Linked DNA regions of Homo sapiens: region 1 is linked to region 2. Evidence: fine-mapped expression QTL. A gene starts in region 2. The other region holds a variant in brackets. All regions are shown on one strand. Distances are from middle to middle.

Region 1 (2,899 bases), 26 kb before region 2:
GACTAGTATCACCAGTGTTAGGTGCAAAAGACCTAACAGGCCCAAGGGTTACTTTATTTTTATTTTTATTTTGAGAAGGAGTCTCATTCTGTCGCCCAGGCTGGAGTGTAGTGGCCCGATCTCGGCTCACTGCAAGCTCCACCTCCTGGGTTCATGCCATTCTCCTGCCTCAGCCTCCCAAGTAGCTGGGACTACAGGCGCCCGCCACCACGCCTGGCTAATTTTTTGTATTTTTAGTAGAGACGGGGTTTCACCGTGTTAGCCAGGATGGTCTCGATCTCCTGACCTCGTGATCCGCCTGCCTCGGCCTCCCAAAGTGCTGGGATTACAGGTGTGAGCCACTGCGCCCGGCCGGGTTACTTCTTAATATACAAACGGGCACCTCCTCTGATGAGCACCTGGGAATGGCCGGAGGAAGACCAGGCCCCAAGCCAGCCCCCCAGATGTGAATCTGCCCCTATTCCCTAGCCAGGCTTGTTGAAAAGTCCCCAGATGTACATGGGATGGGATCTCTTCCTGGGAGAGCAGACCCCAACATCCACCCAGTGAAGCTGAAAGTCACGTCAAATCTGAAAGGCGACTTTGTTCTCCCTGGCTTCATCCCTTATGCATGAAAGAGCAGACGGCTGGCGCTCAGGATTCATAATCCGAGACATCCGGAGACTAAAGACATTGGCCAAATTTAAACCGAAAGATAAACTTGTTGGGTGTCTTTTCAGATTATGAGGGAAAGAAGAAAGGGGAGGATTTCTTAGTCATCCATGAACCACTGAGAATTCACAGGGAGTCAGCCTGATGCTGATATGAGGGCTCTGCCTCTGGGTTCTGGACGCTTAAAATACCAGTTTCAAAGGGATAAAGAGATACATGTCCAAGTGGACCCCCACAAGCCACAGCTGAGGGGCAGAGGCCTGGGGAATCTCCGGAGAGTGGCTGAAAGAACCTGAAGAGAGTGGCCTTTCTGTGAGGGTCACCGCACAGGTCAACAGGTGGTCTCGGGCAGCATATGGCCAGACTGGGCTCCTGGGAAGCCAGGACATGGCGGGGTAAGGGCCACACAGGTTGGCGGCTCAGCTGTGGCCCCGCCCAGCACTTGAAGCACAGCTGCCTTCCTCTCCCAGCCCAGTGTCCTCAGCAGTAACGGGAGCTAATGCCATCTGCCATCTGCGCTCAGCACAACCGTTGCAATATGGTGCAGAGCTCAGCACAACACCCGGCACATAGTAAGAGCTCAGTTAACACTGGTTGCTAACTATTTTACTTTACCATTTTTAGACATATTGAGTTCCAGTTGCCTTTGGTTCTGAGATAACCTGAATGCACAAGTGTTCTACCAACAATGTGATGATGGTCACC[A/G]CTGAGTCACACAAAACCCAGGGTGGTAAAAAGCGGGGAGGTCATTGCACCATTTTCACAGACGGGAAAATCAAGGCTCAAGAGGTGACTGATCAAGTGTCACAGCCTCCAAGTGGCAGAGCTAGGGCTAGACCCTGAGTCTCTCAAGACACTGAAATACTTCCCACCATCCCCCAACACACCCAAACCACACATCCTGAGTTCATCTGGGCCACGCCTGGACCCCTGTCCCCAGTACTGAGACCCAGGCCCAGTCCACGTTCAGCCCGGAGCAAGTCTGTGGAATGATAAAGTGTTGCGGATCCAAAAAGTGATGGAAATAATGGACATCCTCTCTGTGGAAAACGCCCACGTGGACACGTACACAACCTCATGCACACTGCAGGGGACTCACAGCCTGGCCACAGTCCCCCGCCGGGGCTCTCAGACGCTTCAGCCGATGCACCAGATCCCTGGTGTAGCCTCCATGAGTCATCCAGAGGTGACCTCATCACACACACACCCAGCTGCTGGGTGAAAAGGGGGCCCCACTGGGCCTTCAACCCCAGGAACCTAAGACCATCACCCCCACTCAGTGCTGCCCCTGGGCACGCGGCCCCACCCAGCCTGTGGTCACTGCTGCTGCCATCCCCAAAGGGCAGGAGCCGCCGGACGCTGCCGCCAGTCTACTCCACCTGATGAGCGTTGCTTGAGTTTCAAAACGAGAACATTTATTATTTGTTTTTTCCTCATTAAAGTTTCACAAATAAAGCACAGCAAGACTTGTCTGCAGACACACAGGAGGCACACGGACAGCCCGTCAACCAGAGATGGAGACGAAGGCCAGCGTGGCTCTCACAGGGCAGCGCTTCTCAGAACCCCTGGCCCCCCTCGTGCCAAGGCTGGCCTGTGTCAGGCCTCGCCCACGCCGCCTTATGACAAATAGAGGCCGGTGCCAAGGAGGTGGCTACAGAGCAGGGGCAAGGAAGTTATCCTCATGTTCTGATAATGACCCTGCAAATCCCACCCCACCCTCAGGCACCTCCGTCTAAGGTGTCCGGTTACTCCAGGTAAGGAGGTTCCCAGGAGGGCCGTGTTTTCCCTAGGGCTGATGAAACTTGCTCCGACAAGCCAGGCCACTGGGAGGCACCTCAGGATGGAAAAGATGCTGGAGGCTTTGCTGGCTTTCAGGATGCCGGGAGCCCCACGGGGGCAAAAGGGGAGGAAGGAAAGCGATTCTAAAGACAGATTGCTGCTGGTCTGTCCCGACCCAGGGTCACAGTGTCAGCAAAGAGAACAGCATGATTCTGACAGGGTTGGATTTTGTTTCACCCTCGGAATGAGCAGACTTCAAACACTTGCATTTTCACGGAAATCAACAAGAGAGACAGCTAGCAGGACACGAGGCTCCTGCCAGTTCTGTGTGGAAAGGCACCAGATGGTTTGTTATGAAACACATTTTGGTCAGAAAATAGCTGGGGTTTTTTGGTTCCTGGGAGGACAACAAAGCTAGAAGAAAAGGAGGTGTGAGTTGCGTGAGGAGGAGGCAGAGAAGAAAGCAGCT
Region 2 (2,899 bases):
CCCTTCCCTTGCCAGCCCCCCTTCCTTCAAAACCACTTCCCTGGGGGCTGCCCCACCACCCTCCCTCCCTCATTCCTGGAGAAAACCCGCAGGATTCTCCCACTGGAACAGATGGCCATCTCAGAAGTCCTGGTCAAATCTTGCCAGTTTTTAAAGGGTCTATTTTGGGATGCAATCAGTGTGATAAACGGTACATCCCCTGGCCTAGTGGCCCAGCCCTAATGGGTCTCTGACCCCACCCCCCACCAGCAGGCACCACCCCACATTCCCAATGCCAATGCCAGTCTCAGCTGGGAGGCGGCCACAGCTGAACAACAGAGTGGGGCCAGAGGAGGAGGGAGGCGGGCCCTCTAGGCCCAGACACGCTGGCACTCCTTGGACCAGGGAGCTCGGGCTCCCCTGGCAGAGCCCTGTAAGGCCAAGAGGGGATGGGATGAGGGGGTGCTGTACTGTCAGTTGTTTCCTGATGAGGGGAGAAGCTGTGGCCCGAAGTAGGTGGCAGGGAGGTGGGAGTGTGCAGCAGTCCTGGGCTCTGGCTCCAAAACCAGCAGGAAGGTGTGTGTGACCCCAGGCAAGCCACTCTCTTCTCCCTCCCAAACAACGAGACCTGCGCTAGGCTGGGTCTTCTGGCTTCAGGGGAAGGTGCCAGGTGACAAGTTCCCTGAGCGTAATCAGAGACTGGGGGAGAGAAAGGGGGGGAGGCCCCTCCCAGCCTCCCAGACGCCCCAGGGAGAGGTGGCGGCGAGTCTGTCGTTTGCCTGGGCACCCAAGGGACTCTGGAAGCCCGAGGGGAAAGGTGCGAGAGAAAACAGGTTTCAAAAATAGTCGGGACGCCAGGCTTGCCACCTGGACCCGGCTAGAGGAAGGGACGTAAGGGTCTAGATCGCCTGATGTGGGGCTCTCCCGAGGCACCCCAGGCGGGGCCTCGTTCCCAATTTCAAGTACGTACCTGCGACCCCGGGCTCACACCTGGATGGGTGTCTGGGCACCCGGAGTCAAAAGTTGGCCCGGTGGGTCGGGCAGGGGGCGGGAGAACGGGCCAGTGGGCTCCTGACCGCCGCAGCTGCTGGCTGGGGCGCAGGGGTGCGGGACGGGGGCGTCTTCCCAAGCCCCTGCGCCCTCTCCTCCTCCCCTAGGCACCGACGACGAGCGCCTGCCTCCCCCTAGCTGGCCAGGACAGCAGGGCGGGAGGTGCCGCGGGTGGCGGGGGCCTCTTCTCCCAACCTGCACCCCACCCCATGCCGGCTGCACCTGAGGACCCCGAGCTCGGGCTCCTTCCTCAGCGCTGCCCCTCCTCGCAGCGGCATCGAGCGGCCGGCGAGTAGGTGCACAACTTGACCCCGGCCGACCCCCTGCCCCGCAGGGCCGGGAAAGGGCCACGCCGGGACCGGAGCGCCGGTGAGGCCCCGCCTCTGCCCAACTTGGCCGCACTCCGGGCGCCCGCGGAGGCCCCGCGCGCCTCTGCCCGATCCCGGCCCGGCCCGGCTGACGCGCGCACACTCACTGCGGTGCCGGCCACCGCCCCCCCAGCTCTGCTTGGCCAAGCTGGGGCTCCGGATCAGCGCCCGCCCCGCCGACTTGAGCGCGTCCATGGCCCGCTCCGGCCGCCGCCGCCGCTGCCGCAGCCAAAACTCCGTCAGGAAAAACTTTCCGCCCGGCCCTGCGGCGCGCGGGCTGCGCGCTCCTCCCCTCCCAGCGCCAGCTCCGCCGCGGCGTCCGACGGGGCGGGGCGAGAGAGGACAGGCCCCGCCCCCAGACGGGCCGCGCCCCCGACGGCCGGTCTCGCCCCGCCCGGTCCCTGTCCAGGCTCCAGGTCCAGGCACCAAGAGTTTCCGAGGCCGCCCGAAGGCGCCAGAAGATAGCAAATCGCAAGCCCTAGACGCCCCCGCTTTCCTCCTTTTCCCCAATCCCCACCCCGTAGGGGCCTGAGGGCCTGAGAGCAGCGGCCTAGGATTTCCAGTGACCATTTTACAGATGGGGAGACTGAGGGCTCCTCCAGTGGTGAAAGATCTTGTTCAGGGACAAAAGCAATGCGATGTCCAGGGCAGTGGGAGACTTAGGAAATAGTGGAGGCTGTAAGCCAGGGATATCCAAACTTTTGGCTTCCTTAGGCCACATTGGAAGAAGAAGTGTCTTGGGCCACACATGAAATACACTAACACTAACGACAGCTGATGAGCTGAAATATATATATATACACACACACTCATGTTTTTTGTTTTTCTGTATTGTTTTTTTTCCCCTGAGACAGAGTTTCACTCTGTTGCCCAGGTTGGAGTGCAGTGGTGCGATCTCGGGTCACTGCAACCTCTACCTCCCGGGTTCAAGCTATTCTCATGCCTCAGCCTCCCGAGTAGCTGGGATTACAGGCATGCACCACCATGCCTGGCTAATTTTTGTATTATTAATAGAGATGGAGTTTTACCATGTTGGCCAGGCTGGTCTCGAACTCCTGACCTCAAGTGATCTGCCCGCCTCAGCCTCCCAAAGTGCTGGGATGGCTGTGAGCCACCACACCCTGCCCAAAAAAATCTCATAATGTTTTAAGAACCTTTACCAATTTGTGTTGGGCTCCATTCAAAGCCGTCCTGGACCTCACATGGCCAGTGGGCCACAGGTTGGACAAGCTTGCAGTATAGACCCTTGTTAGGCGCAGGGTCGGTATATAAAAATTTGCCTTTAGCAAGTCCAGCCAGGCACTTTACTCATCCTCGTAGCTCCCAGGCTGCTCCCTGGCACCACCTGAGCATGCTGGGCCACCCCATGCCCCCGCAACTTCCCAGGTAGCCTCACAGATGGTATGATCTGGAACGTGCCCCTGACACTGACTTGCTGTGTGACCTCAGGCAAGTACTTCCCCTCTCTGAGTCTTGTTTATCTGTGAATGAGAGTCAATGCT

What was found.
Region 1: its variant is fine-mapped to the expression of LDLRAP1 in whole blood (INTERVAL, PIP above 0.99).

The regions. Positions count from the first base shown.
Region 1 is chr1:25,568,032-25,570,930 of GRCh38, reverse strand. LDLRAP1 (low density lipoprotein receptor adaptor protein 1) reads right to left here. Exons shown (of 9, transcript NM_015627.3): 9 at 2,045-2,899. Among named protein-coding and RNA genes, the nearest start is that of LDLRAP1, 26 kb to the right of the region's middle. RefSeq lists enhancers at 1,968-2,691, 2,692-2,899. The variant A/G (reference allele first, on the strand shown) is at 1,357.
Region 2 is chr1:25,542,392-25,545,290 of GRCh38, reverse strand. It overlaps LDLRAP1 (low density lipoprotein receptor adaptor protein 1), which reads right to left and starts at 1,685. Exons shown (of 9, transcript NM_015627.3): 1 at 1,505-1,685. The coding sequence starts at 1,592. RefSeq lists silencers at 1,186-1,365, 1,396-1,855 and an enhancer at 1,956-2,015.